Linked DNA regions of Homo sapiens. The protein of the gene in region 1 interacts with the protein of each later gene in a pairwise test. Each region holds a gene or a part of one and is shown on either strand. Other genes may lie near its edges. The genes, in order: ATP23 and HR.

Region 1 (16,109 bases):
CCGTCTCCCAGGTTCAAGCAATTCTTCTCCCTCAGTCTCCCAAGTAGCTGGGTTTACAGGCGCACGCCACCATGCCCGGCTAATTTTTGTATTTTTAGTAGAAATGGGGTCTTAGCATGTTGACCAGACTGGTCTCGAACTCCTGTCCTCAAGTGATCCACCCACCTCGGCCTCCCAAAGTGCTGGGATTACAGGTGTGAGCCACTGCGCCAGCCCAGCTCATTTTCTAGTTCTTACCATTCACCTTGGGTGATTAATAAAGACAGTACTCAAAATTTTCTTGTAAGTAATTACCAAGCCTGGCCTTTCTGCTACACCAGCCTGAGCACTGTTTTTAATGGAAAAGAAATCTCAGCTTGTTATGTAGGAACCTTGCAGATGTTGTATAACTTTGAGGGGTTTAAAGGAAGTGACTTCTGACATCCACTTCTTAACATTCTGGCCCAAGGGCAGGAACTCCAGCATACTTGCAATATGGCCATAATCAGTTGAACAAATTTTTTTTTTTTTTTTTTTTTTTTGAGACGTAGTTTTGCTCTTTTTTTTTGCCCAGGCTGGAATGCAGTGGCACGATCTCGGCTCACCGCAACCTCCGCCTCCCGGGTTCAAGAGATTCTCCTGCCTCAGCCTCCTGAGTAGCTGGGATTATAGGCGCCCACCACCACCCGGCTAATTTTGTATTTTTAGTAGAGATGGGGGGTTCTCCATGTTGGTCAGGCTGGTCTTGAACTCCCGACCTCAGGTGATCCACCTGCCTCGGCCTCCCAAAGTGCTGGGATTACAGGCGTGAGCCACCGCGCCTGGGGGACAAATGTTTTATGGAATCATATCTATAGAATTTGAACTAGAATGGATTTTGTGTACAACCTCCTTATTTTACAGGTGAGATAACAGTCCTGAAGATGTTGTTTCTTTCCCAAGATTTCCTATGTGTTAGTAGTAGAGGGGATTTACTATATGGTGGAGGGTCTCCTGAGCCCTGGCCCAGGGCTGTTTGCCACATACACACTGTTTCTGGACATTGTCTCCTTTTCTTGCCTTTTAGTGCTGTTAACAAAGATAGACACTTTTCTTGCGAAGACTGTAATGGAAATGTCAGTGGAGGTTTTGATGCTTCAACATCTCAGGTAGGCATTATTGCCAAATTGTTTCCTTCCCTTTAATCCTCTCTCTTTATATTTTTTGAGCATCTTCCACATGCTCGGCATTCTGTTTGGTAGACTTTATGTAGGACTAAAAAAGTGAATTAGTTATCCTTACTCTAAGGAGTTTACTCTTAAAATCTCTTAAGGAGTTTACAGCCTTACAGGAAAGATAAGACATGAACACAGATAATTATAAAATGAGGCAAGCTAAACCATTTTAGGTGGGCTTGGTTACCACAATGGAACAGTGATGTGATCGATTGAAAGATGCCAACAGATTCGACTAGAGGATATAAAGCCTCCTTAGGGGCAGAGCAGGGACAGAGCAGGGGCAGCATGAGCAAAAGTGCATGCTACGAAACTGCATGGCATGTGTAGGGAATGGCATATTGTCTAGTTTATCTGGAGGGCAGGAACATGTGGGGAATGAGGGAAAATAGGATTGGAAGGAAATGTAAGCCCTATGGTGGGAGGTTTTGAATGCTAAATTAAAGGGTTTTTACCTTTACGTGGTGAGAATTGATACTGCCTGTGAAAATTTTTTATTAGGGGAGTTTTCTAATCTGTACAATTTGGGCAACGATTGTATCTATTTTATGGAATGATTATGAGAATTAAATGAGATATCTCTTATAGAGTTGCTTATCTTAGTGCCTGGCCCATAGTAAGCATTCAATAAATTTTATTATTAGTTTTAAGTCATCAGAGAGTTTCGACAGAGTCTTGGAGGTGGTAGATAATGTCATGTGATCAGGGTAAATGATGGTGTTATAAGTAACTGTTTCCCACTTGAATGTATAATTCATACTTAACTACACTTAACTGTTTCCTGCTGGATAATTTTGTATGTATTTAGGTTATTTATAGCATTTTTACAGTAATCATGTGAAGTGGCAATATAGAACAAGGATGAGAAGTCTAGATTTTGGAGTCAGACTTGAGTTCAAATCCTAGTTTCCTTGCTTATTATCTGTGGGGCTTGGGCAAGTTATTTTTCTTCTTCTCAGTTTCCTCATTTGTAAACTGGTAATCACAATACCTATAGCTCTCAAAATGGCTCTGGATAAGTTCACTCCCTTCTCGGTCCCCCCAGGGTTAAACAGAGTGCACATCTTGAACTTTCATCCTAATTCTCAGCAGTGTTGAACACAGTTGGGCACCCTCTCCTTTTATTTTATTATTATTTTTTAAATTATTATTATTTTTGAGACAGAGTCTTACTCTGTCACCCAGGCTGGAATGCAGTGGTGCAATATGGGCTCACTGCAACCTCTGCCTCCTGGGTTCAAGTGATTCTCCTGCCTCAGCCTCCTGAGTAGCTGGGATTGCAGGCATGTGCCACCATGCCCAGCTAATTTTTGTATTTTTAGTAGAGTCAGGGTTTCACCATATTGGCCAGGCTGGTCTTGAACCCCTGACCTCAGGTGATCCACCCATCTTGGCCTCCCAAACTGCTAGGATTACAGGCGTGAGCCACTGTGCCTGGCCTATTTTTTTAAATGAAAATTTTTATTATGAAGTATCTCATTCATACAGAAGAGTAAAACATCTATATGTACACTTTCAGTAATAATAAAGTGCACACCTATGTAACCACCACCCAGACTAGAGAAAAAGAACATTACTAGGACTTCAGAAGCCTTCGTGGTCCTCTTGAATCAGGTCCTTTTCCCTTCCTTATCCTGACTTTTGTGGTAACCATTCCCTGCTTTTCTGAATGGCTTTACCATCTACATATACAATCCAACAGTGTGTTATTTAGTTGCCTGCTTTTGAGCTTTATACATGTTATACTTTGAATTTTATGTAGCATTTTGTAGTATTATGAAATTGTACAGTATATAGTCTCCAATTACTTTCCACCTTCAGCATTTGTGAGATTCTTTCTTGTTGTTGTGTGTACCTCTCTGGTTTATTTCGTTTCCCTGTTATATGGTATTTATTCCGTTGTGTGTTTATACTATAGTTTACTCTAATATTGATTGTTTCCAACTTTGTTATTATGAACAATGCTGCTATGAATATTTTTGACCTTCGCTACTGGTGCACATGTGCAAGAGTTTCTCTAAGGTATATGCTCAAGAGCAGAATTACTGGGTCATATAGTTTGTATACACTTGACTTCAGCTGTTAATGCCAAACACTTTCTTTGGTTTCTAGTATACAGCACTCTTCTGGTTGCTCCTTTGCTAGCTTACCTTCCTCTACTAGCATTTAAATGTCAAAGTCCCTCAATCCTTGGTCATAGAGCCCCTTCTTTTCTTACTCTGCCAAGGAGGTCTCATCAATTTTCTGGGGTCAAAGCTCACTTTTAAGAACTCCACATTCCATATATCCAAGTGCCCATTTAACACCTCTACTTGAGCATCTTTTTATTTATTTATTTATTTTTATTTTTAAGGAAAAAAAGTTTTTTTGGGACAGGGTCTTGCTCTGTCGCCTAGGCTGGAGTGCAGTGGCGCAATCATGGCTCACTACAGCCTTGAACTCCTGGGCTCAAGCAATCCTCCCATCTCAGCCTCCTGAGTAGTTGGGACTACAGGAGTGCATCACTGGACCCAGCTAACTTTTAAAATTTTTTGTAGAGATGAGGTCTCACTATGTTGCCCAGGCTGGTCTTAAACTCCTGGCCTCAAATGATCCTTCCATTTCAGCCTCCCAAAGTGCTGGGATTACAAGTGAGAGCCACTGCTCCCCACCTACTTAAGGGTCTTAAGGACACTTCAGACTTGAAATGTGTAAGTCCAAATTCATGATTTTTACCATCCCCCATCTCCCCACTCAACCCAGTCTTTTAGTTTTGCATATCTCAGTGGATGGTGCTACCATCGACCCTATTAGCCAAGCCAGAAATTTATGGATCATCTTTGATACCCCTGATTCCTTCCCCGTATTCTATCAACATATTTTGTCTAATTTACCTCCTAAATAACTCTTTTGGCTTCCACCACCATTCTAGCTGAAGTGCTGTTCTCTCTTGCCTAGAATATTAGCCTTCAGCTAATTTCTCTGCATCCAGTTTTGGCCATCTCCTGCCTATTCTTCCAACTATAGTTAAAAGGATAAAAGCAAAATAAAACAAAAGCAGTCTTCTGTTTCAACATTCCCTTTATCCTGAGAGCTTCCCATTGCTCTTAGGGTAAAGACAAGGTCTTCAGGGATTTGGCCCCCCGACCTCACCAGCCGTATCTGTTGCCTACCACCCCCACCGCTGTGCTTCAACTCTAGGGCTCTCCTTTTAGCTTCTCAAGCATTTTCTTCCGTCAACCCTCCCTCTACGCTTTGCATAGGTTTTTCTCTCTGCCTAGAATACTCCCTTCCCCTCCACACCTCAAATTTCACTTCTATTCCTCCATTAGATACCAGTTTAACCATTCCTTCCACAGAGAAACCTTCCCCCACCTCCAGAGTAGGTCAGGCATTCTTTCTTTTTCTTTTTTTTTTTTTTGACACAGGGTCTCCCTTTCTTGCCCAGGCTGGAGTTCAGTGGCGTGTTCCTGGCTCACTGCAGCACCAACCTCCTGGGCTCAAGTGATCCTCCTACCTCAGCCTTCCAAGTAGCTGGGACTATAGGCATGTGCCACCATGCCTGGCTAATTTTTATTTTATTTTTTTATAGAGATGGGGTTTTGCTCTGTTGCCCAGGCTGGTCCCGAACTCCTGGGCTCAAGGAATCTGCCTGCCTCAGCCTCTCAAAGTACTGGGATTATAGGCATGAGCCACTGCACCCAACCTCATTGTATATGCTCATGACAACCTGGGTTTTTCTTCATGACAACTGTCATTGCATGTATGTAAACATTTTGGTAAATATTTGGTTAGTTTCTATCTCCATCAGTAGATTATAATCTATTATTAGGTCTCAATAAGTATTAGTTGAATCAATGGATGTTGAATGAATGTATATAAATATCTGGCACATATCCCAGTGTCTGGCAGTAGTACACAATCAATGGCAGCTATTACTATTAGGATCCCTTGTGTCTTTCTTATTCTTATAGGGTCCTGCTCAGTGTGCTGTTGTGTTTTGCACTTCTTTCTGAAGGTCTTTCTGATGAGTTTTCCCTGGCATTTGCCCTCATTCTAGTAAAATGAGGACAGTGGTGGTCATTCCTTTTTCATTCAATGCTCATTCAGAAACTTGATAAGAAGTATTTTACATATATTCTCATTTAATTCTCACAGTTCTATGAGGTAGCTACCCTAATTATCTCCTTTTTATAGTTGAGGAAATTGAGGTACAGAGAGATTAAGAAACTTGCCTAAGGTCACTGAGTTAGTAAGGGGTGGAGCTGGAATTTGAATCTGTGTGCTTCATTCCAAAGCCCACTCTCTTAACCATAATGCTGTGGAGTCCGAGACAGACTAGTACGATCAGCCCAGTAAGGATGGTGTGTGAATACGTGTCCTTAATCTAAGTACTGCTGTAGTCCAGAGAGAGGAGAAGGGAGAAGTTAGTCACTGGGCGAGGCAATTGGAGCATGTACACTTAGGACTAGGACTTGTCCCATGGGTAGATGTGTGGCCAATGAAGAAGAGTGGGTAGAGATATTCCAGGCAGGTGAGCTTGTGGGGGAGAGGTGAGGTCATGTGGGAGAGAAGATCGAGTCTATGGAAGGAGATTTTAGAATCACTGAACTTCTTTTATTTTGGTGTCTCCTAGATAGTTTTGTGCCAGAATAATATCCATAATCAGGCCCATATGAACAGAGTGGTCACACACGAGCTTATTCATGCATTTGATCATTGTCGTGCCCATGTCGACTGGTTCACCAACATCAGACATTTGGCGTGCTCAGAGGTGAGTTTTATTGTATTTTTCTCCAGAATACTCTATGCTTGAATATTTTATTCAAGTGTAATTTATTTAAATGTATTCCTTTTCTTACTGTCATAGTTCTACCTTAGTCTTGAATTTCGGTTTATAACTAACATTGAATACCATTTTTGATATACAGTTAGAGAAATTTAAAGTGTATTTTTAGAATTCTCTTAACTATATCCTGTAAGTCCTAGTAATAGTGATGACTGACTTTAATAAGCTATTAATTTTTTCCTATGGAATATATTTTATAATGTATTCCATAGGAGACATTAATAATAAAAATAAAAATAAAAAAATAATTAAAATTTACTGAGGGCTGTGTTCCAAACACTGTTCTGTTTGCACAGATTCTTATTTAATCTTCACAATAACCTACTGAGATAGATATTATACTATTATTGTCCCTGTTTTACATATGTGGAAAGTGAGACAGTTGTTTAGATTCCAAAGTTAGTAAGTGGTAGAGGCAGGATTACAACTAGTGTTTTTAACTAGCTTGCCCAGCTGCCTTCCATAGAGCTCCTTGCTTGCCCTAGAGTAAAACATGCTCTTTTCAAAAATACAACATAAAAAGATATTTATTACTAAGCACGTTGGATTGCTCTTGGAATATGCTCCTAGAGAGAGCGTATTCTGCATATGCATATACTTGGATGTCATTAATTGAAGAGTTAATTAAAATAATCTAAATCTCAAGCCTATACTATATAACTTCGATTATTTCCCTTTCTCTTGAAATTAATATGTAGCCCCCTGCATCTAATTATAATTCCAATTATTTGGAGAATAGACTGAAACCTGAATTTTTAAATAGGTCTCTTTCTTGGGTACTGTGAGAATTAATGCCTTTTAGCTAGTTAAAGTGTGTTAAGTACTTTGAGCTCCTCAGAGGAATGAGGCCATAATATTGAAGAAGGAACAAGAAGTGGGCCATTCTGTTAGCAATGAATTAGCAAAAATGTGGTCAAGCTGCCTGTAGAATCTATGTGGGTAGTTCTAAGACTTTTTCATTCATTGAAGTATAGTAAATCTGAAAATATGTCCTAATTTCAGGCTGTCATGCTCATAGCGTGACCAGTTTGGAATGTTCTTGATTCTTTGTGTTTTGTATTGCTTCATTTTTCATAGGACAATCAAGTCCCTAGAGGAAGGTCATGAACTTATATAGGTTTGAGGGAAGCTCCAAGGGAGATTCGGGCAAGGGTTGGGAGGGGCATATTCTCAAAGTGTCTCAGATATTAATGCATTCAGTTTTAAGGTCACATTGAAACTCAGTTTATTTCAAGAATGCTTTCTTGAAGTACTTTTGGCAATTTCTACAAGTATTTGTATCTTGTAGAGTGTGTAGTTTAACTCTGAGGTCTAGCTCTCTGACTTTTGGTTCCAAAAGAAATTAGTTCTGTCAGTAAAGCTACGCATAAAGTTTAGAAAATTTCCTTTGGTAGGCGATTGAACTTTTCCCCATCTCTCCAGTGTATTTGGCATTGTCTAGCATAGCTCATAGATATTTGCTCTCGTTGTCAATAGAGTTTAAAAAGTCCTTTAAGAAGAAGTGTCACAAATACTCTTTTCTCAGACAAAGATGCTAATTTTATATTCTTTTCTAATTTTTAAAAATTGGTTGATATCATAAAGATATATAGAGCATGAGCGTTTATTTCTTTTTATTTGTCTTCTGTGTGATAGGTTCGAGCTGCTAACCTTAGTGGAGACTGCTCACTTGTCAATGAAATATTCAGGTTACATTTTGGATTAAAACAACACCACCAGGTAAAAACTAATATGAAATCACTTCCCCTCCAGAGTGTTACGAGTGGAAATAATGAATAAAGAAATGAAAAGTACATTCAGTATTTGAAATTTGAAAGAACTTCGTATGTGAAAAGAATACAAAGTATGTACCATTTAAACAAAGTAGATGGAATTTAGTTCTACTTTGTAATTATGGGCAAGCTATGTGACTCAATGAGTGTGTGAGATAGTCTAATAATGAAAAGAGGCCTGGTGCGGTGGCTTATGCCTCCCAGCAGTTTGGGAGGCCGAGGCGGGCGGATCACGAGGTCAGGAGATCGAGACCAGCGTGGCCAACATGGTGAAACCCCGTGTCTACTAAAAATACAAAAAAATTAGCTGGGCGTAGTGGAGCACACCTGTAGTCCCAACTACTATGGAGGCTGAGGCAGGAGAATCACTTGAATCTGGGAGATGGAGGTTGCAGTGAGCCGAGATCATGCCACTGCACTCCAGTCTGGGCCACAGAGTGAGACTCCATCTCAAAAAAAAAAAAAAAAAAAAAGGAGCTAAGATCTTGCATCTGGGATACTTTTCGATGGGGGTGGATAAGGAATGGAAGTGAAATCACAGCATGTCTTACTGTTATTCTAACAATTCTTGACTTCTATTTTGAATCTACCATAGCATTCTGGAGACAAAAGATGTAATCCCTTTCAGAACAGAGAGTGTGTTGCTGCACAAGTTATGGCTATGTGTCAGTGTACCTGTAAAGGCTATATAATGTGATAGAAAACCTTTGGCTTAGCACAGACTTGAGTATGATGAGCTTAGCTGAGAGGGATTTGTGTGAACAAAACAAAAACAAAAAACAAAAGAGAGCTATAAGGCAAGATTATCCTGGTAGAAAGGCTTTGAGATCTGTATTAGGTGGACGTGGGGAAAGAAAGTATAGGACTCATGGATTGATAATGAATGTGAGCAGTTCTGCCTGGGCCTGTGTCCACATTTAGGAGAAAGGCTGGTCAGTCATTTTCTACAGTAAGAGCCTGCTGAGTCAGTTTGTGAAGTATATGAGCATCACGATATCAGTTCCAACTAGATGAAAAAAGATAGGCTTAGGACAACAGGAAGGCCCTTGGTTTTCTGGAGAAGAGAGTAACTCAACTCTGGAGTGGGGGGTGGAAAGTCACAGTGAGCTACTCAGAAATTGTGAACTTAGTGAATGGGAGGGAGAAGAAAAGCCTTCTGCCTGGAAAGGGTGATTACTCTAGACAGTGAGGTGTTCAGCCTCTGCCAGGTCAGCTTAGTGATATGCCAGTGACTTGTCTTGTGCTGCATGTTTTCTGTGCCCTTGAGTCCCTGCTTCTCTGGTGAATTCTGTGTGTTCTGGCTGTCAGTGGAGAGGGTGGAAGCAGGGTACACATCAGCACGCCCCTAGAGAAGAGAATAATGTGGTTAAAGCATGTGCTGGCATAGCTTATGGATATCTGCTCTTGTCAATAGAGTTTGAAAAATTCCTTAAAAAAAAAAACTATTACATATACTCTGTTTTTAGAAAAATATGCTAATTTTATATTCTTTTCCAATTAAAAAAAAATCAGTTGATATACTAAAGAAATAGAGCATGTTTTTTTTTTTTTTAATTCACCTTCTATCTTTGTGATAGGTTTGTGATGCACACAATCTTTGAAAGAGGAAGTTTTCCTCTTTTTACCATTGGGTAGCAGCAGCAGAAAACAAATAGAAACAGCAATAGGACAGAAAATAAGTGGAGGTAGTAGGAATCTGGCTGAGGGAGAAGAGTCTTAGAGAATGGAGTCCCTGCTTTTGTACAGCATGTACCCAGGAAATAGAAACAGCAAGTACAGTTACTGATTGTAAAATTGCATAGTCATATCTTTATTTTAACAGAAATTTATTATGTCTGAAAAGAAGTAAATCTGTGGTCTACACTTGTGTCTCCCAACCCTGTGGCTTCAGGAGACAAATTTTTGTACCTTTTTTCCCTGGAGGGGAGAAATTTCCTCTCTTTTTAGCAACTGTTGTTTTGGCTTCACATGGTTCTTCCTTTTCTTGTTCCTTTATGCCTGGGGTTTATTTTTTAAAATCAGCGTTTAGTAAAATTCAGGTTGAGAAACACTATATTCCAATGTTAGTGAATATCTCCAGCTTGAGCACACTGACCAGGCCAATGAAAAACTGGGAACATGTGGAGAAAACGGATGGCTGTCAGGATGCACAGCCATCCAAACCAGTGTTTGATTATTTTTAGGAAAAGGTCAAATGCCATTCTTTTGAGTTTTAGATTGGTCCTGGGGAGAAATAAATGGATTAAAAGCTCTCCAAGAATTGGAATGGCAGGGCCTTATATTTCTTAAATATTTAAATTAGAGTATTGAGAAATTCTAGCCTATTACTATGAAATGTTAGGTAAATTATTATCTTAGAACTTTAATATCTGTGTAAAGAACAATCAGGAAAAAAAAGTTGTTTAATTTCCACACCCCCTAAAAAATTAAGGTACATTCCAAGTTCGGGTGGATATGTGTATGGTTTCCTGTTGCCTCCAGAGAGGACTTACCCTTCTCAAAGGAAAAGTTATCTAGCATTGGTCAACTGAAAAGAAAGAGAGGTACAGAAGTGAAGTATATTTTAAATTTAATTAAATTTTATCAAAAAGTCAATCAGGACTTTATAGACTTTTTTTTTTTTTTTGGCGAGTTTGCAAATTGGGAGATATTGTTTGGCAGACACTGCCAAGAATTTCTGAGAATGACATCTGCTTATATCAGTGGGAAAGATGAGAAAATGGAGAAGGTCTTACTTATGCCTAAATAATTTTAGGTTGAGCTAAAAATACTCCTTAAGTGTTATGGATCTTTGTTCATTTTGTTTTCTTCTTTGGAATGACAGAAATTAGTAAAATAATATGAGGAAATTAATTTTAATTAATTCAGACATTAGATAAAATGTATTATTTCGTGATTAAATGTTTATATAAAATTAGAGCCTCATACTTTTCCTTCTTTTTAGACTTGTGTGCGAGACAGAGCCACTCTTTCTATCCTGGCTGTTAGGAATATCAGCAAAGAAGTAGCTAAAAAGGCTGTTGATGAAGTTTTTGAATCTTGTTTCAATGACCATGAACCTTTTGGAAGGATCCCACATAACAAGACTTATGCAAGATATGCTCACAGAGACTTTGAAAACCGTGATCGGTATTATTCAAATATATGAGCACAATGACATTTTTATATTACAGAGCTTCCATCATCATGAAGAAAAAAAAATTTGGTTCTCAAGTGAACAAACATATAAAATGTAAACAATCCCTACAATCCAGATAAAACAGAGAAGACTGTGATTCTAGCATATTATCAGAAAAAGTAACTATGGCAAAAAATGAAACTGCTTTAAACTCCAAGGCAGAAATTGTATCTTTATAGCTAACCATTTAGTAAATAAATACATTACATTTTTGTATTTTAGTCATTTGTTTTTATTACATGTGATTATTTTAAAATTTGATTATGAAACCTGTGAAGTGTGCTCTTCCATGATGTTGATAGGTGACCACTGTTGGTATTTACATTAAATGTAAAGAAATGTGTACTGATCTCATTGTAGGATACTTATTGAGCTGTTGTTATGATGAAAATTGGAAATAATTCATTCAGTGGTCAATGCTATCCTCTCCCTATTCTTCTTTTATCATATATGTGGGACCCATATGGCCTAATTTTCTGGGGACAGTCCTGGTTAGATCTTTTTCTTTTTAATAAAGGCAGTGCTCGAATTTTAGCTCCAGATCGACTGCAAGAACAAACCAGCAATACTGAGAGGACCCACAGACCCTCTGAAGGAAGCGACTGCTCCTACAGTGCCCAGGAGACACCCCAAATACTGTGAGTGCCCAACTGCAGAAGTGGGAAAGGGAGACCCTCCTCTCCCACACACACCCCCCCACTGGAGAAACTGAAGGTCTGTTTGTGGGAGAAGTTTCCGACCTTACCTGGAGCTGAGTTAATTTAGAGAGCCGAGCGAAATACAGGGGTAGAGCAAGCAGCAGGAAGGCCCAGGGAGCTCGCTGGGTCCCCAAGCAGCCCATTCCTGCCTGTCACCACAGAGATCCATTGCAAGGGCAGCCAGAAGAGCAGCGGGTAAAACTCCACAGGGAGAAGGACATCTCTAGCTGAACTTTGTAACTATTTCAATGGGGCAAGAAGCCTCCCGGCCAGAACTTGGGAGAGGGCACAAATCCCATGTGCAGAATCCACAGAGGGGAAGAACCAAGCTCTTTTCTTTCACAGCTGGGAGGTGGGTAGCCTGGGGCAAGTTTTCAAGCCTGTCTCACCCACCACCTGGAAGCAGACTTGGGGCTGTGGTGGGGGGCATGGTGGGAGTGAGACTGGCCCTTCGGCTTGTGTGGGAGCTGGGTGAGGCCTGTGACTGCCGGCTTTCCCCTACTTCCCTGACAACCTGCATGACTCCCCAGAGGCAGTCATAATCCTCCTAGGGACACAACTCCAGTGACCTGGGAATCTCACCCTCATCTCCCACAACAGTCACAGCAAGACCTGCCCAAGGAGAGTCTGAGCTCAGACATGTCTATCCCTGCCCCGACCTGATGTTCCTTCCCTACCCACCCTGGTATCTGAACAAAAAGGGCATACAATCTTGGGAGTTCTAGGGCCCCACTCACCACAAGTTCTTCTCCATACTACCACAACTGATGCTCTCTGGAAAGCGCTACCTCCTGGCAGGAGGCCAGCCAGCACAAAAATAGAGCCTTCAACCACCAAAGCTAAGAACCCTCATGGAGTCCATTGCACCCCCCCTGCCACCTCCACTGGAACAGGTGCTGGTATCCACAGCCGAGAGACCCATAGACGGTTCACATCACAGGATTCTGTGCAGGCAACCCCCAGTACCAGCATGGAGCTGGGTAGACTCACTGGGTGGCTAGACCCAGAAGAGAGACAACAATCACAGCAGTTTGGCTTACAGGAAGCCACATCCATCGGAAAAGGGGGAGGGTATACATCAAGGGAACACCCTGTGGGACAAAGGAACCTGAACAATGGCCTTCAGCCCTAGACCTTCCCTTTGACAGAGACTACCCAAATGAGAAGGAACCAGAAAACTAACCCTGGTAATATGACAAAACAAAAGCTCTTTAACACCCACAAAAAAATCACACTAGTTCACCAGCAATGGATTCAAACCAAGAAGAAATCCCTGATTTACCTGAAAAAGAATTCAGGAGGTTAGTTATTAAGCTAATCAGGGAGGCACCAGAGAAAGGCAAAGCCCAGTGCAAGGAAATCCAAAAAATGATATAAGAAGTGAAGGGAGAAATATTCAAGGAAATGGAGAGCTTAAAGAAAAAAGAATAAAAAATTCAGGAAACTTTGGACACACTTTTAGAAATGCAAAATGCTCTGGAAAATCTCAGCAATAGAATTGAACAAGTAGAAGAAAGAAATTCAGAGCTTGAAGACAAGGTCTTCAAATTAACCCAATCCAAAAAAGACAAAGAAAAAAGAATAAGAAAATATGAACAAAGCTTCCAAGAAGTCTAGGATTATGTTAAGTGACCAAAACTAAGAATAATCAGTGTTCCTGAGGAAGAAGAGAATTCTAAAAGCTTGGAAGACATATATGGGGGAAATAATCAAGGAAAACTTCTCTGGCCTTGCGAGAGACCTAGACATTCAAATACAAGAAGCACAAAGAACACCTGGGAAATTCATCACAAAAAGATCATTGTTTAAGTACATTGTCACTAGGTTATCCAAAGTTAAGATGAAGGAAAGAATCTTAAGAGCTGTGAGACAGAAGCACCAGGTAACCTATAAAGGAAAACCTATCAGATTAACAACAGATTTCTCAGCAGAAACCCTACAAGCCAGAAGGGATTGGGGCCCTATCTTCAGCCTCCTCAAACAAAACAATTATCAGCCAAGGATTTTGTATCCAGTGAAACAAAGCATCATATATGAAGGAAAGATACAGTCTTTTTTCAGACAAATAAGTGCTGGGAGAATTCACCACTACCAAGCCACCACCACAAGAACTGCTTAAAAGGAGCTCTAAATCTTGAAACAAATCCTGGAAATGCAACACATCAAAACAGAACCTCTTTAAAGCATAAATCACACAGGATCTGTAAAACGAAAATACAAATTAAAAAGCAAAAGTAAAAAACCAAAATACAGAGGCAACAAAGAGCATGATGAATGCAATGATACCTCACATTTCAATTATAACATTGAATGTAAATGGCCTAAATGCTCCACCTAAAAGAAATAGAACCACAGAATGGATAAAAACTCACCAACCAACTATCTGCTGCCTTCAGGAGACTCACCTAACACATAAGAACTCACATAAACTTAAACTAAAGGGGTGGAATAAAGCATTTGATGCAAACGGACACCAAAAGTGAGCAGGGGTGGCTATTCTTACATCAGACAAAACAAACTTTAAAACAACAGCAGTTAAAAGAGACAAAGAGGGACATTACATAATGGTAAAAGGCCATGTCCAACAGGAAAATATTACTGTCCTAAACATATATGCATCTAACACTGGAGCTTCCAAATTTATAAAACAATTACTAATAGACCTAAGAAATGAGAGACAGCAACACAACAAGAGTGGGGGACTTCAGTACTCCACTGACAGCATTAGACAGGTCATCAAGACAGAAAGTCAACAAAGAAACAAGGGATTTAAACTATAACTTGGAACAAATGGACTTAACCGATATATACAGAACATTTCATGCAACAACCACAGAATACACGTTCTATTCAACAGTGCATGGAACTTTCTCCAAGGTAGACCTTAGGATAGGCCATAAAATGAGCCTCAATAAATTTAAGAAAATCAAAATTATATCAAGCACTCTCTCTGACCACAGTGGAATAAAACTGGAAATCAACTCCAAAAGGAACCATCAAAACCATGCAAATACATGGAAATTAAATAACTTGCTCCTGAATGAGTATTGGGTCAAGAACGAAATCAAGATGGAAATTAAAAAATTCTTTGAACTGAATGATAATAATGACACAACCTACCAAACCCCTGGGATAAAGCAAAGGTGGTGCTAGGAGGAAGGTTCATAGCCCTAAATGCTGATATCAAAAAGACTAAAAGAGCACAAACTGACATTCTAAGGTCACACCTCAAGGAACTAGAGAAACAAGAACAAACCAAACCCAAACCCAGTAGAAGAAAGAAGTAACCAAGATCAGAGCAGAACTAAAGGAAATTGAAACAGCAATAACAACAACAAAAATACAAAAGATAAATGAAACAAAAAGCTGGTTCTTTGATAAGATAAGTAAAATTGATGGACTATTAGCAAGATTAACTGAGAAAATAAGAAAGAAAATCCAAATAATTTCACTAATAAACAAAACAGGAGATATTACAACTGACACCACTGAAATACAAAGGATCATTCAAAGCTACTGTGAACACCTTTATGCACATAAACTGGAAAACCTAGAAGAGATGGATAAATTCTTGGAAAAACACAATCCTCCTAGCTTAAACCAGGAAGAATTAGATACCCTGAACAGACTAATAACAAGCAGCGAGATTGAAATGGTAATTAAAAAATTACCAACAAAAAAAGTCCCGGACCAGATGGATTCACAGCAGAATTCTACCAGACATTCAAAGAAGAATTGATACCAATCGTTTTGACACTATTCCACAAGATAGAGAAAGAAGAAACCCTTCCTAATTCATTCTATGAAGCCAGCATCACCCTAATACCAAAATCAGGGCAGGACATAACCATAAAAGAAAACTACAGACCAATATCCTTGAAGAACATAGATGCTAAAATCATTAACAAAATACTAGCTAACTGAATTCAACAACATATCAAAAAGATAATCCACCATGATTAAGTGGGCTTCATACCAAGGATGCAGGGATGGTTTAACATACACAGTTCAATAAATGTGATACACCACACAAACAATTAAAAACAAAAATCATGTGATCATCTCAATAGATGCAGAAAAAGCATTCAACAAAATCCAGCATTGCTTTATGATTAAAACTCTCAGCAAAATGGGCAGACAAGGGACAGGTATGTCCCTTGTAATAAAAGCCATCTATGATAGACCCACAGCCAACATAATACTGAGTGGGGAAAAGTTGAAAGCATTCCCTCTGAGAACTGGAACAAGACAAGGATGCCCACTCTCACCACTCCTCTTCAACATAGTACTGGAAGTCCAAGCCAGAGCAATCAGACAAGAGAAAGAAATAAAGGGCATCCAAATTGGTAAAGGGAAAGTCAAACTGTCACTGTTTGCTGGTGATATGATTGTTTACCTTGAAAACTCCAAAGACTCCTCCAGAAAGCTCTTAGAACAGAT
Region 2 (11,407 bases), on another chromosome or scaffold:
GCCCTCCCTGTGGGGCCCAGTGGGTCCTAAGCCCCTGTGCCCCTCTCTGCAGGATGACCGCATCACCAACATCCTGGACAGCATTATCGCACAGGTGGTGGAACGGAAGATCCAGGAGAAAGCCCTGGGGCCGGGGCTTCGAGCTGGCCCGGGTCTGCGCAAGGGCCTGGGCCTGCCCCTCTCTCCAGTGCGGCCCCGGCTGCCTCCCCCAGGGGCTTTGCTGTGGCTGCAGGAGCCCCAGCCTTGCCCTCGGCGTGGCTTCCACCTCTTCCAGGAGCACTGGAGGCAGGGCCAGGTGAGGCACCCCTCCCCTCCCCTCCCGGCCCTGGCCACCCCACCTGCCCCTCGGGGCCTTGGTCCCTAGGCCCAGACAGACCCAGTGGCTCAGGGGGAGCAGGAGGGCTGTCCCCGAGCTGTTCTACTGCCCTTACAACACGCCCTTGCCTGGCCATGGCGGGCACCCTGGCCATTCTCCTCATGGCCTCCTTCCTTTCCCACCACAGCCTGTGTTGGTGTCAGGGATCCAAAGGACATTGCAGGGCAACCTGTGGGGGACAGAAGCTCTTGGGGCACTTGGAGGCCAGGTGCAGGCGCTGAGCCCCCTCGGACCTCCCCAGCCCAGCAGCCTGGGCAGCACAACATTCTGGGAGGGCTTCTCCTGGCCTGAGCGTAAGTGTCCCCAACACAGGGGAGAGGGAGCTGGGAGCCCAAGCCCTAGGGATCGGGTGGCAGAGGAGTCCCAGGGTGACCCCGAGGGGCTGGAAGCAGGTGTTGCTGCCGCCGGGGCAGGGGCTTCAGGGCTGAGGAGGCCAATGGCCGTTCTGTCTCCTCCTGTAGTTCGCCCAAAGTCAGACGAGGGCTCTGTCCTCCTGCTGCACCGAGCTTTGGGGGATGAGGACACCAGCAGGTGTGTATGTCACCAAGGGCCAGCCCTACCTCCCCGCCACCGCAGGCCCCGCCTGGTTCAGCCCTCCCCTCCTCCTCTGCCCCCAACCCCCACCCCGTGGTCCCTGGTACTCTCATGTTTGCCCTCTGGGAGTTACCCCGGTGGTGGTGGGGCTTTGATGGGGTCTCTGGTGCCCAGGTTGGGCCTGCTGGGCATGACCCCCTACCCTGACAGGGTGGAGAACCTAGCTGCCAGTCTGCCACTTCCGGAGTACTGCGCCCTCCATGGAAAACTCAACCTGGCTTCCTACCTCCCACCGGGCCTTGCCCTGCGTCCACTGGAGCCCCAGCTCTGGGCAGCCTATGGTGAGTGTCCCTCCACTCCTGCCCAGTCTCTACTCCCATGCCTGTCTGCCTGTCATCTCGGGGCACACGAGCGTCTGTGCCAAGGCCCTGGGGCCTGAAGCGCTTCTCTGATTCCATTTCTTTCTTTCTTTTTTTTTTTTTTTGTTGTTGTTGAGACGGAGTTTTGCTCTTGTTGCCCAGGCTGGAGTGCAATGGCACTATCTCGGCTCACCGCAACCTCCGCCTCCCAGGTTCAAGCAATTCTCCTGCCTCAGCCTCCCGAGTAGCTGGGATTACAGGCATGCACCACCACGCCCGGCTAATTTTTTCTATTTTTAGTAGAGAGGGGGTTTCTCCATGTTGAGGCTGGTCTCAAACTCCTGACCTCAGGTGATCTGCCCGCCTGGGCCTCCCAAAGTGCCAGGATTACAGGCGTGAGCAACCGCGCCTGGCTCTCTGATTCCATTTCTAACTGTTCTTTCTCTATTGCCATGCAGGTGTGAGCCCGCACCGGGGACACCTGGGGACCAAGAACCTCTGTGTGGAGGTGGCCGACCTGGTCAGCATCCTGGTGCATGCCGACACACCACTGCCTGCCTGGCACCGGGCACAGAAAGGTAGGTCCTCGGCCAGAGGCAGGAGCGGGGACAAGCTACAGAGGTGAGTGTTTGTCGCCACCAGCCCTGGGCCTGCCTGAGCGCTCTTTCCTCCTCAGACTTCCTTTCAGGCCTGGACGGGGAGGGGCTCTGGTCTCCGGGCAGCCAGGTCAGCACTGTGTGGCACGTGTTCCGGGCACAGGACGCCCAGCGCATCCGCCGCTTTCTCCAGATGGTGAGGAGGCAGCCGGGAGCCCTCCCCTTCCCCCCGCCCAGCCCTAGAAGCTCGTCCAGTCCCACCCCAGTGTGCGGTCCCATGTGCTCGCTCCCTGCCCCACGCCCTCAGGTGAGCTGCACAGACCCAACTCGCACAGACAGGTGCAGAGAAGGCAGAGGGGACCCGGAGTTCTGCCGTGGGGCTCAGAGAAGGGGCAGGGGCTGCGGCAGGAGAGCCTGGACCCGATGATGAAATGAGAGCACCAGCTGCCCGAGGCTGGACGTGGTGCTAGGGCCTTAGGCACAATTATCTGTTACCCGTCTCAGCCCCCCGCCCCATGAGGCAGGCACTGCTCCTTTCCCATTGGCAGATGAGAACACCGAAGCTCAGTGGCAGGGCTGGGATCTGAGCTTCTGTCTGTCATGGCCCCAGGTCACTACTCTATGCTCTTCCTGGAGGCAGGCAGCCTCCTCTGCCTTCTGAGACTCCGTCCGGCTGCCCACCTTTTGGTATTTGCATCTTGTTAGGGGAGACTGCCTGGAGGAGATGCTCCCGGAGGGGCTAGCAAGGAAGGGGGCTGAGGGAAGTGGAGGGAGAGATGGGTCAGGTGAGGAGCCAGGGAAGGGGAAGGTGATGGGGTGGGCTGGAGGCAAGAAGCTTGAGGCGCAGGGGAGGAGAGAGTCCAGGGGTAAGGCGAGGGCAGCCCCGTGGTTCCCAAGTCCAGCTGAGCCCTCATTATCCTGGGGAAAAGACTTCCACCTAGTGTCACCCCTCGCCAAGGCACACACACACACGGAGACGTGCAGAGGCCAGCATGGTGTGCACCCCTCCTGCCCACAGGTACACACATGTGTAGATACACACACAGATGCTGGGACACGCAGAGGGGAGCAGACAAGCACACCTCCACACACAGATGGCCTCTTCTGGGCTGGGTGTGGCTGGCCGTGGGCAGTCACTACGGCCCAACCCAGTGACTCACGGGGCAGGGCTGAGGGGCACAGTCTCCCTGGGTGGCCTGGGAAACACTGCTCAGCTCCAGGATGGAGCTGAATCTCCAAGGGCAAAGGAATCTTGGCACCCAGCTGGGACTCCCCTAGGGTCCAATTTGCTTCACCAGCCTTCCCTTCCCCCACGCCCCATCTTGCAGCCCTAAGCCCAGGGGCAATGGCTGAGGTCCTTGCCAAAGGGGGTGGATTGGGCTGGTGGTGGGTTGGAGCACGATGCTGGCGTCCCCTTTGCACATGTTCCCTGGGCACCTCTGTCCTCTGCGAGTCCCTGCCTGCCCAGAGAGCTCCCTGCTCTGGTTAGGCTTGTGAGGTCCCCGTAGCTGTGGCTGCTGCAGAGGCCTCAGCCTGGCCGGAAAGCCTGTTCACCTGCTGGCACTCAGAGCCTCGCAGTGGTCCTTCCCTTTTCTGCATCCGGAATCTTAGGGAGACCCTGATGAACACTTTGAGTTGTCTCCCCAGGGACACACAGCTCTCTCCTCATCCACCACTTAGCACACAATTCTGGCCATTCCAAAGACTTCAGATGAAGAAGTCCTGGTAGACAGTTTATGAACTGGGATTATGCAGGACGTCTCCCTCGGATTTGCAGAAAGGGGTACCATTGAGAGAGGGAGGAGAGGGGCCGAGGTCACAGAGGCTGTTAAAGGCCTCCAGCCCCAGAAAAGCAGGGATTCAGTCTGCCCAACTGTAGGGCCTTGAATCCCTTCCTTCTAAGCTCCTTCCAGCCAAATGTGTGTTCTGCCAACCTGAGCTGCCCCAGCCCCAAACAAACTCAGCCATGCCCTCCCTGCCTGCCCTTCAAGACTTGACCCTTCGGCTCTTTTCTCCACCCCTGGCCTCTGGAAAGTCCATGCCCCATCCTCCTGCAGCCCTGCCCTTCCCTCCCCATCTCGCTCATTCCCCCTTCTCTTCTTTGAGGTGTGCCCGGCCGGGGCAGGCGCCCTGGAGCCTGGCGCCCCAGGCAGCTGCTACCTGGATGCAGGGCTGCGGCGGCGCCTGCGGGAGGAGTGGGGCGTGAGCTGCTGGACCCTGCTCCAGGCCCCCGGAGAGGCCGTGCTGGTGCCTGCAGGGGCTCCCCACCAGGTGCTTCCCAGCGGGCAGGGGCTCTGCGGGGAGATCAGGATGGCAGAAGCGACCCAATCAAGGCCGCAGGCATCCAACATCCCCTCAATACCCAAGAGCCGGGCAGGGCAGGGAGCCGCACGCTGCTGTGGGGAAGAGATAACGGGGGAGCCAAGAGGCCTTGAAGTCACTGAGCCCAACTGGGACTGGCGCCAGAGTCCACTCCTGGTCTCCTGGGCATGCTGATGTCAGGGGGCTCGCAGGGAGACTTTAGGGTCTCTCCAGCAGTTCTGAGTCCCGGTTTTGGCCACAGGCTTTGAGGTGTCCAGTGGTGCATCCAGGAATCTGCTCTCTGAGAGCCAGGGGTCGGGGGTGGTTGTCATTAGAGGAAGCGAACCTCAGGGACCAGGGGGACAGGGAGAGGATGTGTGATCTTGAGCCTCACTGTCCATGTCCCCCCGACACAGGTGCAGGGCCTGGTGAGCACAGTCAGCGTCACTCAGCACTTCCTCTCCCCTGAGACCTCTGCCCTCTCTGCTCAGCTCTGCCACCAGGGACCCAGCCTTCCCCCTGACTGCCACCTGCTTTATGCCCAGGTGAGTGGGATGTGGGCCAGCAGGCTGGGTGTGCTACCCAAGCCTCCCACCTCCCTGTGCCACAGCTGCAGTGGACATAGCAGATCCCACCCTGTGCCAAGCAGGCAGCCACCCTGTGCAGGGGCAGAGTATTCCTTTTGTTTAGTTTGTTTCATTTTGTTTTTTGAGATGGAGTCTTGTTCTGTCACCTAGGCTGGAGTGCAGTGGCACTATCTCAGCTCCCTGCAACCTCCGCCTCCTGGGTTCAAGTGATTCTCCTGCCTCAGCCTCCCAAGTAGCTGGGACTACAGGCGCCCACCACCATGCCTGGTTAAATTTTTTTGGGATTTTTAGTAGACGTGGGGTTTCACCATGTTGGCCAGACCGGTCTTGAACTCCTGACCTCAAATGATCCACCTACCTTGGCCTCCCAAAGTGCTGGGATTACAGGTGTGAGCCACCGCATCTGGCCAGAGTATTCCTTTTAAGTAGGGTGGGGGACAGCGGGTGGGCCCAGGAATGTAGTTGAAAATGCTTTGTCCTCTCTCTTTTTCCTAGATGGACTGGGCTGTGTTCCAAGCAGTGAAGGTGGCCGTGGGGACATTACAGGAGGCCAAATAGAGGGATGCTAGGTGTCTGGGATCGGGGTGGGGACAGGTAGACCAGGTGCTCAGCCCAGGCACAACTTCAGCAGGGGATGGCGCTAGGGGACTTGGGGATTTCTGGTCAACCCCACAAGCACCACTCTGGGCACAAGCAGGGCACTCTGTTCCCCTCCCCCTTAAGCCAACAACCACAGTGCCACCAAGCTCACACCTGTCCTTCTCAGGCTGGCATCTCCCCCACCCTGTGCCCCTTTTCATGGTACCAGGCCCGCACTGGGGGCAATTGACTTCCTCCAATCCCCACTCCTCCGAGACCCAGGAGACAAACAGCCCTTCCTTGGGGAAACTTGGGAATCATTCTGGCTTAAACAACACCTCCTCCTGCTGCTCACTCCCGCTGAGCCCACTCTACTGCCCCAGCTCCGTTTCTACCACCGCATCCTCACTGGGCTCACTGCAGGCATGCTGAACAAGGGGCCTCCAACCTTCTGCCCTCCTGCCAAAAGATCTGGGGAGTGTGAGGAGAGGGTGGCATCAGGAGCTGCTCAGGCTTGGCGGAGGGAGCGGCATGGGCGATGTCACTCAGCCCCTTCCCGGTCCGCCCGCTTCCCTCCTTCATGATTTCCATTAAAGTCTGTTGTTTTGTGACTGCTGCCAGTGTGGTTGGCCCTGCCCCTGCAGGCCACATGGTCCAGGGAGGGAGGGGGACATGGAAATCTGCCTTAGAGACAAATGGAGTAGGGCAGCCCGGAGCTGGGGCCCAAGGGACAGGACACCACTGCCTGCTCTTCGTCTGGGGCCTGGGGCCTTGCCTCCCACTGAGGAGACTTTGGGTGGGGTGGGGGGCTGTCCCCCAAAGATGCTCCTGAGTGCAAGAGCAGGCAAGGCAGAGTCCTGGGGCACAGCCACGAGGTGACCTCCCTGTGCAGAGACTCCCGAGCCCTACTCCACCCAGCAAGCTCCAGTCCGCCCCATCTCTCCCGTCTACCCTGACCTGGAGATCCAGAAGTATGGCCCAGAAGAGCCCTTGCCCCGCCTGTCTGCCCTTGGTGGCAGTGGCCATGGCCGACGCCAGGCCCAGCCACCCTGGGACTGAGCCTGACTGCTTCAGACAGCCGACCCCTCCTTGTCCCCGCTCCACGCCCGCAGCCTCCTGGTGGCGCTCCGCCCTCTCCCGCTTCCTTTGTGTATCTCAGCCCTACAAAGAAAAACACTCCCACTCTTGTCATACCTAATTGTTCCTGCTGTGGTTTGGGGAATTTTTTTTATTAAATAAAGTTTTTTATTATAAGGGTAATATACTTTCAGAACATTCAGAAAATAAGAAAGTCACCTTCTAGCCCATCATTACACACCTCCAACTACTATGAGTATTTTGGCATATTCCCTCCCAGTGCTTTCCCCAAGGATTTGCTGTGCACATAGCTGGATTGCTGTGTTTTGTCCTTGGTTTCTTTCTTTCGACACCATATCATAATCATTTTCTGTGTTGCTACCTAATCTTCATTTTAAATGACTGCTTATATTCCATTAAGTGGCTTTGCCATGATTTACAAAACTATGCTTTATTTAAAAAAAAAAATGTAGGGCTTCTTTCATTGTTTGGAGAACTCAGTTATTTTCATTTTTTTATGGGATAAAGAGGAGAAAAGAAAAGAAAAAACTGAGAACTCTACAGTTTACTTTGCTTTTGTTTTCATTTAATTTATCTCATCTGGCCAGGCGACGTGGTTCACGCCTGTAATCCTAGCACTTGGGGAGGCAGAGGCGGGTGGATCACTTGAGGTCAGGAGTTCAAGACCAGCCTGGCCAATATGGTGAAACCCTGTCTCTACTAAAATACCAAAAAAAAAAAAAAAAAAAAAAAAAAAAATTAGCTGGGCATGGTGGCAGGCGCCTGTAATCCCAGCTACACGGGAGGCTGAGGCAGAAGAATCGCTTGAACCTGGGAGGTGGAGATTGCAGTCAGCCGAAATCATGCCACTGCACTCCAGCCTGGGAGACAGAGCAAAACTCTGCCTCCAAAATAATAATAATAATAATAATAATAATAATAATAATAATAATTTATCTCATTTAATCCCTTTTATTAAAATGATCTCAGTTAATCCGTTATCAGGATTTTAAGACAGATAGGATTTATTTCCATTTTACAGAAGAAGAAACAGGCAAGCTACAATTAAGTAAATTACCCAAGGTCGCATAGCAATTTTAGTGGAAGAACTGGGATTTGAACCAAGTTTTCTGAGTCAAGACACCTTGTGTACATTATAGTCTTAACTCTTAGTGGAATTTAAAGACAGGCTTGCCCTCCTCTCTGTCCTTCTTCTTCCAATGTACGTGCTTTATAGCTGATCATGTTCCAAGTGGCCCCGAATGACCCATTCCTACCTACGTTTCATCTTTTGTTTGAGACAGGGTCTCACTCTGTCACCCAGGCTGGAATGCAGTGATGCAATCTCAGCTCACTGCAACCTCTGCCTCCCGGACTCACGCCATCCTCCCACCTCAGCCTCCTGAGTAGCTGGGACTACAGGTGCATGCCACCATGCCTAATTTTGGTAGTTTTTGTAGAGACAGGGTCTTGCCACACTGCCCAGGCTGGTCTCGAACTCCTGGGCTCAAGCAATGTGCCCACCTTGGCCTTCCAAAGTTCTGGGATTACAAGCGTGATCCACCATGCCCCACTTCATCTTCTGTAGCCATGTCCTGATGTCACCTCAGAACCCCAAATCTGGAGTATTTCCTGTGGGAAGATGGTTCTCTGAATTTTACCCATTGGGGTGGGAACAGTGCACCACTAAACCTCTGTCTTCCCCTCAAGACCTTATCTCCTCTTAACCGCCTCTGGCCTTCCAGGTGGGTCACAATGCCCTTGAGGACATATTTGGTCTCTTTGTAAACAGAAGTGAATCAATGTTCATTTGTTCCAGCACTGTTCCTGAGAATGCAGCCGGACCAGGTAGGGACTGACTCGGAGACTCGTCTTGGGGCACTCTGTGGCACTGTTCCTCAGAGACCCTTGGGCCTCTGCTGCTCACAGGGTCTACCAGCTGTGCTCTGCCTGCAGCCCCTCTGTCGCTCAGAAATCCCAGACATACAACCAGCCAAGCTGGAAGTGAGCGCAGGGTTGCATACCCAATGCCTTCTTTCCTTTTCTCTGATAAAATTCTCAGACTTTTTATTTTCCCTTTTTACCCAGGAGCATAGATTCGAGTTGCCCTGAATATACATGCTCAGGCTTTTTATTTTGAAATAATTTTAGATTTACAGCTGAGTCACAAAGATAGCACAGGAAGTTCCCAATTATCCTTCACCCAGCCTCCCCTATTGTGAACATCTTACATAACCATGGTGCCTTGATCAAAACTACGACATTAATATTGATACCACACTACGAACGAAGCAACAGGCCTCACCAGGATTTCACCAGTTTTTTCATGAATGCCCTTTTTCTGTTCCAGGATCCAACCATGCCTGCATTTGACAGATGGCCTGGAGGGTAGATGTGGCGTCCCCAGGGTCCCTCAGAGAGCTAGCCTGTGGCCAGCCCTCCCTCTCCCGCTGTAGCTTGGGTTCCTGCCCTCCTCACCTTCCTACCTTGTCAAGACACAGGCCTTGTTGCTCTGTCCATGGCTCTAGCATCACAGATGCCCTGATACAACCTTGCCCTGCCTGTCCCTATCCCCATCCCCATCCCCATGGTCGCCTACCCAGGCCTTCCTGCTCCTGTGCTCCCCCCATCCCACCCCCACCGCACATGCGCACATATGCCCTGAAACGGCTGGCTCTGGCTTGGCTCCCAAGGGTGCTGGGAGCATTAAGCTACTCCCATTCACCATACTGTGCGGCCCGCCACACTGGCCAGGGTTCTTCCCTCTCTGTGACTGGAGGACACACAGTTGACTTGATGGGGACACTGGTGGTTCCTATCTAGCCTCCCGTCCTCCCTCAGCTGCCTCCCTTGTCTCAGGGCCTCTCCAGCCTCTGTCTCACTGCTGTTCTCTCCCAAGGCCTTGGGAACTCCTGCCTCTTTGTTGTCTCAGCACTCCCTTCACAGTTTACAAGAGGCTTTGGGGGAGGGCTTTACCCCCCGGGATAATGGGAGGCGTGGAGCCACGGTTTGCTGCGGTCTTTGCTCTCTGGGCAGTGAGGCCTTCTGTTGTTTACCTTAGGCTGCCTCTGAAGCTCCCAGATCCCTGCCTAGACATGATCTCACTCTCTCAAATCATCCCTGCGAGGCAGACAGGAGTCTGGGTCCAACTTCCCCCACTTCACAGGTGGGAAAACTGAGGGATTCACACATGTGTGTGCCGCAAGACACACACACACACACACACACACACACACACACACACACACACAGAGCAAATATGTTGACAAGTTGCTCTGCAGTCCTGGGGTCCTGTGCCTGCAGTTATTTGGAAGGTGAGAGGTCCATGATAGGGCCTGGCCCAGCGGCGTTCAGCAAGTGCCTCAAAATTCATGGGCCTTCTAGTGATATCCCACAGCCTAACACAGGGCCCTGCCTCCAGGGAGCCTGTGGTCAGTATCAGCAGGTGAGAGGAGCCTAAAGAGATGCATCCTGCGTTGCTGAAGTTCCTGAGTCCAGTTCTAAGGCAGCTCTACAGGCACATTTCGCCAGGCATGGTGGCTCATGCCTGCAACCACAGCACTTTGGAAGGCCAAGGTGGGAGGATCACTGAGGCCAGGAGTTCAAGACCAGCCTGGGCAATACAGCAAGACCCTCGTTTCTACAAAGAATTAAAAATTAAAAATTTAGCCAGGCGTGGTGGTGCACACCTGCAGTCCCAGCTACTCAGGAGTCTGAGGCAGGAGGATGACTCGAATCCAAGAGATCAAGTCTGCAGTAGGAGCTGTGATCACGCCACTGCACCTCCAATCTGAGCAACACAGTGAAACCCTGACTCTAGGGGATAACAAAAGTCACATTTCATGAGGGCAGGCCTTGCGTGTGGTAGCAAGAGCTATGGTGGAGAGGGACCACCCCTGAGGGTTGGTGGGCTGCCTGGGGACGGTGCCCAGTGCTGGACAATCCACACAGCTCCTCTCCAATTGTTGTGGCTTCCCAACACCCCTGTAAAAGAAGAATTGCTATGATCCTGCTCTACAAATAAGAAAATTGAGGCCCACAGCTCACCCAGGAGCACAGAGCAAGCCAGTCAGCAGTGGCTGGCCATCTGGCTGCAGGTCCTGAGCTTTGTCCACACCACCAAGCCACAGTCTCCCTAGCAGGGAGGCGCACAAAACTATCAGAGGCAGAGGAAAGGGGTGGCCTCTGCCAGGTGAGGAGCCAGACGGCCTGCTTCGCAGATCCCTTCCAGCTGGCTTTGCCTTCCAGTGCTGAGGTGGGGTGAAGGAGGAAAGGCCGAGCTGGGAGAGGAGCAGGCGCTCGCCACAACCACCCCCACCCTGCTCTCCACGCGCCAGGTCCTGCACGCTGGGTGGGAGGGTGACGACAAGGATGGAGGAGCAGGGCCCCACCCCCGCCCTCCCAGGGCGCACCATCTGCAGCAGAGAGGGCCTTGAGCTGCGTGGGAAATGCGGTAGGCAGAGGGACACTGATGAGGGTGGGCCGGCTGACGGCAGCCTTCTCTCAGCCCCGGACCCCTCCCGCCATCCCCAGCCCTGCCCCCTCCCTCCTTCCAGCGCCTGTCACTCTTCCTGCCCAAACCAAGCATTTAGCACTTAGCCTCGAACCCTCAGCTGACTCCTCATCTAGGACTCCGTCCATCTCTCCAACTATTGCAGAATCTCCTTCAAGGCAGGGGTTTATGTCCCCCACCCCACGGGCCATGTGACATTTATAACTCTTTGGTGGAATGAGAAGAAAGGTATTTGGGATATGATCAACTCCGGCAATGCCATTGTGTGTTTACGGCAACAGCGGGACAGTGGTTCCAGGGGGCGGCCCCGGGCCTCCGTGACGTCACCGGATTGTCGCGTCACCGTCGCCTACCCCGGCGGCGCAACGCGCCCTGCAGGAAAGATGACGTCACCGTCGGAGCTCCTGCAGACCAGTGCGCGCTCGGGGAGTTGGCGAGCGGGTGGCGGCTGGGAGACGTCCCGAGCGCACGGGACTGACAGGCGG

What was found.
Region 2: the proteins of ATP23 (region 1) and HR interact in binary tests that used the Homo sapiens proteins (3 or more experiments, as listed by UniProt).

What each region holds. Positions count from the first base shown.
Region 1 is NC_000012.12:57,945,950-57,962,058, forward strand, and holds the end of ATP23 (mitochondrial inner membrane protease ATP23 homolog), read left to right. Parts: intron 1-776; exon of another isoform or gene 777-811; coding exon of another isoform or gene 812-882; intron 883-1,045; coding exon 1,046-1,127; intron 1,128-4,764; exon of another isoform or gene 4,765-4,935; intron 4,936-5,808; coding exon 5,809-5,946; intron 5,947-7,656; coding exon 7,657-7,740; intron 7,741-10,737; coding exon 10,738-10,941; 3' UTR 10,942-13,199; downstream 13,200-16,109.
Region 2 is NC_000008.11:22,109,604-22,121,010, reverse strand, and holds the end of HR (lysine-specific demethylase hairless), read left to right. Parts: intron 1-52; coding exon 53-295; intron 296-503; coding exon 504-669; intron 670-837; coding exon 838-907; intron 908-1,120; coding exon 1,121-1,251; intron 1,252-1,727; coding exon 1,728-1,847; intron 1,848-1,945; coding exon 1,946-2,061; intron 2,062-3,971; coding exon 3,972-4,136; intron 4,137-4,582; coding exon 4,583-4,711; intron 4,712-5,248; coding exon 5,249-5,311; 3' UTR 5,312-6,592; downstream 6,593-11,407. Other genes in the region: 8-oxo-dGDP phosphatase NUDT18, read left to right, coding at 10,858-10,862, 11,068-11,407. UniProt on the Homo sapiens protein: Histone demethylase that specifically demethylates both mono- and dimethylated 'Lys-9' of histone H3. May act as a transcription regulator controlling hair biology (via targeting of collagens), neural activity, and cell cycle.